Linked DNA regions of Homo sapiens. The protein of the gene in region 2 purifies or fractionates together with the protein of the main gene of each other region. This does not show direct contact. Each region holds a gene or a part of one and is shown on either strand. Other genes may lie near its edges.

The links. The genes of interacting proteins can lie anywhere in the genome.
Region 1: the proteins of DBX2 (region 2) and ANKHD1 purify together in Homo sapiens (affinity purification with mass spectrometry, with the first as the bait; one large-scale study listed by BioGRID). This does not show direct contact.

Annotation. Positions count from the first base shown.
Region 1 is NC_000005.10:140,523,833-140,527,332, reverse strand, and holds part of ANKHD1 (ankyrin repeat and KH domain-containing protein 1), read right to left. Parts: intron 3,268-3,500; coding exon 3,093-3,267; intron 1,338-3,092; coding exon 890-1,337; intron 406-889; coding exon 259-405; intron 1-258. Other genes in the region: ANKHD1-EIF4EBP3 protein, read right to left, coding at 259-405, 890-1,337, 3,093-3,267. UniProt on the Homo sapiens protein: May play a role as a scaffolding protein that may be associated with the abnormal phenotype of leukemia cells. Isoform 2 may possess an antiapoptotic effect and protect cells during normal cell survival through its regulation of caspases.
Region 2 is NC_000012.12:45,017,136-45,020,099, forward strand, and holds part of DBX2 (homeobox protein DBX2), read right to left. Parts: intron 1-2,964.

The DNA of each region.
Region 1 (3,500 bases), on a different chromosome or scaffold from region 2:
GAAAGCCTTTACATTTGAACTACATAAAAAGCAACTGAGGTTATCCAAAAAAGCCAAAATTTCTTGTGTCATATAAAATATGCATGCAAAATTTACATACTGCTTCTAATTTTGCTTTAGCATATTCTGGATTTAGTGTGGCAATGCAGTTTAAAATAATAACCACATTCAAATTATTCATTAATTAACTAGGTAGCCATCTCACATGAGAAAGGGAAAATATATGAAAGCTAAAAAGATGGAACTAATTCTATTTACCTTCGTACAACTTCTTTCCACCCTTCTTCTCTTTTCTGACCCCTTTTAGGGCTAGTGAGATTCAGCTTTATGTTTGGAGAGCTTAATGGCAATGACACTGTCTTGTAGCTGGTTGACAAGGAATTAGGAGTCACTTCACCTTCAAGTCTAAGAAGAGACAAATAGCAAGTACAATAAAAGATAAGTTTTAAGATAGAAACTCAAGAGACTATTCCTTTATAGCCAGAGTTACGCTGAAATATTCGTATTAAACTTTGGCACATCAAATAATCAATGAGTCAGAAAAACAGAAATAGAGCAAAGAACCCATCATTTATTTTAGTATTAAAATGGATTCAGATGCCAAAAATTAGACTATAATCAATAAAAATGACATAGATAAAATCAAAGCATGCAAATATTTTCAACTTCAGACTATGAATCCTATAAAAATTTCTAATAATCTCATTTCCTAACTAGCAAATGATAAAGAGGACATGGGTGAATTTCAGTTTTGAATATTGAAGATAGATAATGTGGTAGACTTCAATTGTTTAACACAACTTGTACTTGGATTAATATACTTCAAATTCTTGTACCAGGCATGAAGAAGGAAAGGTGCAGGTAGAGTTAACAAATCAGAAAAATTTACCGTGTCTGAGTTTTGGAAGTAGCAGTACTTGTCTTTTCTTCTTGGGAATGAAGGAGCAGTGAGGGGTATTTAGAGGAATTCACATCCATCACAAAATTTAACTCTTGGCTTTTACCACCACTGCTACTCTCACTGTTGCAGTCTGTGCTGTCCAAGTTATCTGAATCACTATTCCCACCTGCACCACCACCTCTAGGTTCTCCATTTATTTTATTTTTATCTGCCTTTTGTTGGGCTAAAGACATATGTTGTTCTGGTAAAATTAAATGTGCTGTAGGAGGGGTTTCTTTTGTTTTGTTCTTCTTATTTTTCCGATTGGTGCTGGGAGTTGTCACCACATTGGCCCTTTTTTTCCCAAACACATTTGTGAATGTTGCAGATGTTGCAGAGATTCCAATCGTAGTGGTGGTGGTTGCACTAGGAGGTTCTATGGGAACTTCTTGCTCCACTGAAATTGTTAAAAAGAATAAAAATCATACTGAGTCACAGATCTCAAAACAAATTCTGACAGAATATATTTGATAATTCATAATAATTCAGTGTTTTACATCATATTTTCCTTTCACCAGTATTCACTAAGAAATAAAGAAATCTTTTTTTTTTTTTTTTAGATGGAGTCTTGCTCTGTCGCCTAGGCTGGAATGCAGTGGTGCGATATTGGCTCACTGCAACCTCTGCCTCCTGGGTAGCTGGGACTACAGGCATGTGCCACCATGCCCGGCTAATTTTTGTACTTTTAGTAGAGACAGGGTTTCACCATGTTGGCCAGGCTGATCTCAAACTCCTGACCTCAAGATCCACCCGCCTCGGCCTCCCAAAGTGCGGGATTACAGGTGTGAGCCACTGCGCCCAGCTGAAATAAAGAAATCTTTTACTGTGGCCAGGTGCAGTGGCTCATGCCTGTAATTTCAGCACTGTGGGAGGCCAAGGCAGGTGGATTGATTACTTGAGCTCAAGAGTTCAAGATCTCCTGGGCAACATGGCGAAATCTTGTCTCTACAAAAAATACAAAAATTAGCTGGGGATGGTGGTGCATACCTGTGGTCCCTGCTACTGGGGAGGCTGGGGTGGGCGGATCACCTGAACCTGGGGGGCAGAGGTTGCAGTGAGCCGAGATTGCACCACTGCACTCCAGCCTGGGTGGCAGAGGGAGACCTCATCTCAAAAAAACACACAAAAAAAATCTTTGCTCTTGTTAGCCTAATAAATATTTACTATTATTTGTTGTTAGAACAAATATAAAATATATTTTCTTGTCTAAGGTGGTATAGGACACACATACTAGCAACATTCTTAATATTCTTTTTTTTCTTTTTATTTTTTTTTTGAGACAGAGTTTTGCTCCTGTCACCCAGGCTGGAGTGCAATGGCGTGAACTCGGCTCACCACCTCCGCCTCCCAGGTTCAAGCAATTCTCCTGCCTCAGCCTCCTGAGTAGGTGGGATTATAGGCATGTGCCACCACGCCTGTAATCCCAGGCTAATTTTGTAATTTTTTTTTTTTTTTAAGTAGAGACGGGGTTTCACCATATTGGTCAGGCTGGTCTCAAACTCCTGACCTCGTGATCCGCTCTCGGCCTCCCAAAGTGCTGGGATTACAGGTGTGAGCCATTGCACCCGGCCCAATATTCTTAATATTCTTAATTCTAGTCTCATGAACCCAAACCACAATATAATTTGAATTTAGGACATTTTTCAAATAGTATTTTAGAATTAGAATCCAAGTAGAACAAAATTATTTGCCTACTACAAGCACTGCCAGACAGTACAATAAATAACTCTTTGAGAGTACTAAACCCATCTCTACTGACATTTCAGGCCTCTATATCCTTGAGCCTGAATCTCAGCTAAAAGTAAACTGAGAAATTTTACTTCTAATCAGGAGAGGAAGAGTTAGAGAAGAATCTCAAAAAAAGGTGGCAAACTTCTCACTGTATTGCTTTTAGTATATATGCAGTGTTTTACAAGGTGACTTAAATTACAACTGAATTTATTCAAATTATGCGCTTGTTTTCCCTCTTGTTTCTCTGCATTAATTTACAATGCAAAACACTTACAAATATTTACTATAAAAGTCATTGTCCATTTCAGATTAATAAAGTAATCAAATGTTTAACTAGAGTTAACTAGAGCAAAGAGCACTCAAAATGAAGTTGATAAACAAAGGAGAATTTTATCGTTAATTCAGATGGTTTGTTTCTCACCATCTTCATCATTCTCCTCTTCATCTTCATCCTCTGGTAGTTCCGAATTCTCCTTAGGTTTGTTTTCTTCATCTTCTTCCTGTTTCCTTTTCTGTTCCTCTTTTTTCTTTTTTCTCTTTTCTTTTCTTTTTTCTCTTTTAGCAGCAAGAGCCTGCTTTCTGCTCTCTTCTCTTGACTGGAAATAAAGCAGGTATATAATTTTACCAATAAGGCAGTAATGTAAAATAAAGAATGAAATGATATTTTTATGATACACAGGGATTTCCATGGATGTTACTCTCAAAACACATTTATAAATGCCAACAAGAAAAAATAAACTGGACACCATCAAAATTAAAAACTTTTATACTTCAAAGGAATCATCAAGAAAGTAAAAAATCAGCTGGGCGTGGTGGCTCACACCTATAA
Region 2 (2,964 bases):
TGTGATAAGTTGGTTACACCCTGTAAGTCTGATAGCTTTCAAAATTCATTTAACTCTTATATATTTTAAAACATCATCTAGTCTGTGCTGAATTATTTATTCAAAGGAAATATATGGGCTAGTATTAGCATCTGAGTGTTTATTTTGTGCCAGGCATCAGGCTATGCACTCGGGATAGATTTTATAATTTGATCGTCACAATGGCTGTAAGAAGTCCTCATTTCACATGTTAAAAAAACTGAAGTTTGGAGACATTAGCTTATGGTCACAAAGCTAGTGAAATGGAAGCACTGAGACTAGAATCCATGATTGTCTGACTCCAGGGTCCAGGCTCTTATAAACAATCAGACCTCATCAGGAGCTTTCTGAGACTAAATTAAGAATCCATTTTGTAATGCTTTGATAAATTGCAGGCTTTATACAGTTTCCAAGTCTTGATTACTCCCAGGATTTATCAAACTGTAAGAATTAAGCTCAATAAATAACAACTAATTGTAATTAAGCCAAAAGTGCTTATGATGGTGGTTCCTAATTTGAACCATATCTTCCTCCAACCCAAAAGAGGTTAGTCTTTATTACAAACCTCCCTCTTTATACACTGTGTAGTCAACTGTGCCTGAGCTGAAAACTTCACAACTGGTTTCCTGGAATCTTAAAAGCCAATCATGTTTTTTCCTGTGTATTGCATCACATCCTTACACTAACAATTTAGTTGATTTCTATTTTTAAAACAAAAACTAGAAAATTTTTACCCAAAGAAATAATTATTATAGCATATCAACCAAGTATTTCTCTCAGTGAAGAAAAAAATTCTATCTAAGGCTCTCATTCCAGATTGGCAAAACAATTTCTTCATTCTTTTTACTTGATTGGCAATGTTCAAAATGGCAACAAAAAAAATCTACCCCAGGCAATTCAGTGCAAAAGACTGTCATCTCAGTTACAACACCATGATTAAGGCTTTTCATACGAAAACAGAACTAATGTGTACATACCAGAGTACTTGGTTCTATTCATTAACTCATTTATTGTTTGCAGTGGGCATTTACTCCTAGAAAGCATGCCAAGTATTTCTAATGGGTTTTCACTGAGACAGTTTTTTGTTTTCATTAGTGATTCTTGCCTTTGTCATCACATTTGTTATTTCCTCTTCTCTTAGCTTTTCTGTATATCTATAAATATTTGTTGTCAAGTGATATCTCAAAGAAAAAATACATAAAAGGAGTTTCCTCACAATCAATGGTGTTGAGACAAATGCATATTTGGGGAGTAACATAAAAGTTCTACCTCTCAAGAAATGCAAAAACAAATTCCAGATAGATTAAATAGCTAAATATAAAAACGAAACTGCAAAAGTTTTAAAAGAAAATAGAGATTATCATGATAGTCTTGGGGAAACGAATGTTTTCATAAGCATGACATAAAACAGAGGATACATGGAAAAGATAAAAAGGAGCTGAATACATAAAAATGAGAAATTTCTGTACAAACATATGAAAAAGCCAAAAACTACCCAACAAAACTAAAAGCAAGAAATCTAAATGATATTTGTACACCCATATTCGCAGCAGCATTATTCACAATAGCCAAAAATGGGAAGCAACCAAGCATCTAGGAACAGATAAATGGATAAATAAAATGTGGTATATACATACAAAGGAATACTATTCAGCCTTGAAAAGGAAGGAAATTCTGGCACATGCTACAACAGAAATGAACCTTGAGGATATTATTCTAAGTAAAACAGGCCAGGATAAAAGTACAAATGCCATATTACTCCACTCATATGAGAGCCTTAGAATAGTCATTAATAGAAACATAAAGTAGAATAGTGGGTGCCAGGAGGTGGGGGAGGGGGAAATGGTGAGTTATTGTTTAATGGATAGAGTTTCAGTTTTACAAGATGAAAAAATTTCTGGAGATGAATGGTCGTGATGGTTTCACAACAGTGTCAGTGTACTTAATGTCACTGAACTGAACACTTAAAAAAAGGTTAAAATGATAAATTCTGCTATGCATATTTTACCTCAATAAAAAAAAGCCACAAACTTAGAAAGGACTTTTGCAACATCTGAAACAGGAAAAATATACTAACCATAATATTCCAAAATTCTTGACTAACAGCCAAAGTATTGCTACATATCAATAAAAAGACAATATGATAGAAAAAAAGATGCAGCCATGAAAAGGCCAATTCACAGACTACAAATGGCCAATAAAACAAATAAAAGCCCCTCACGTTCTGGTAGTTAGGAAAATTCAAATCGAAAAATAACAAATAGCATTGCCCATGAGAGTGGCAACATTTTTAAAATCATAAATGGTGGAGCTTTTGCAAAAAGGGACTATTTGTTAGTAAGAGTGAAATTTTCATATGTCAGTATCTAATTTGATACAATATTGTATTTGGAAAGGAATTTTTAATCTTCTACATTTTAAATGTACACACACTTTTACACATAAATCCCACTCACACTCTCTTACAAAATATTTTTAAAGTGCATAAAAATTTGTGATAGTGAAAATTGGAAGTAACTTAAAATTGACGATGGTGAAATGATGGTCTGTTATGAAAGACAAAAAAGAATGAAGTAGATCTGTATGTACTGACATGGAAGGAAGCAATCCATAATATTCAAAAAGGAAAAAAGCACCAAACAATACACATTATCAGTAGCATTATTCACAATAGCCCAAAACTGAGAACAATACACATGCCCACCATCGGTAAATGGATGAATTGTGGTATACTACATAATGGTAGTACTACACAGCAAGGAATACGCATGAGCTTTTACTACACACAACATGAAGATTCTCACAAACATACTGTTAAGTAAAAGAAGCATATATGATTCTATTTACATAAATTACTGAATACTTTTTTAAATTTGTTAATAGCTTTATTGAGCCTATAATTCACATACCATACAATTCACCCATTTAAAATGTACAATGCAATGG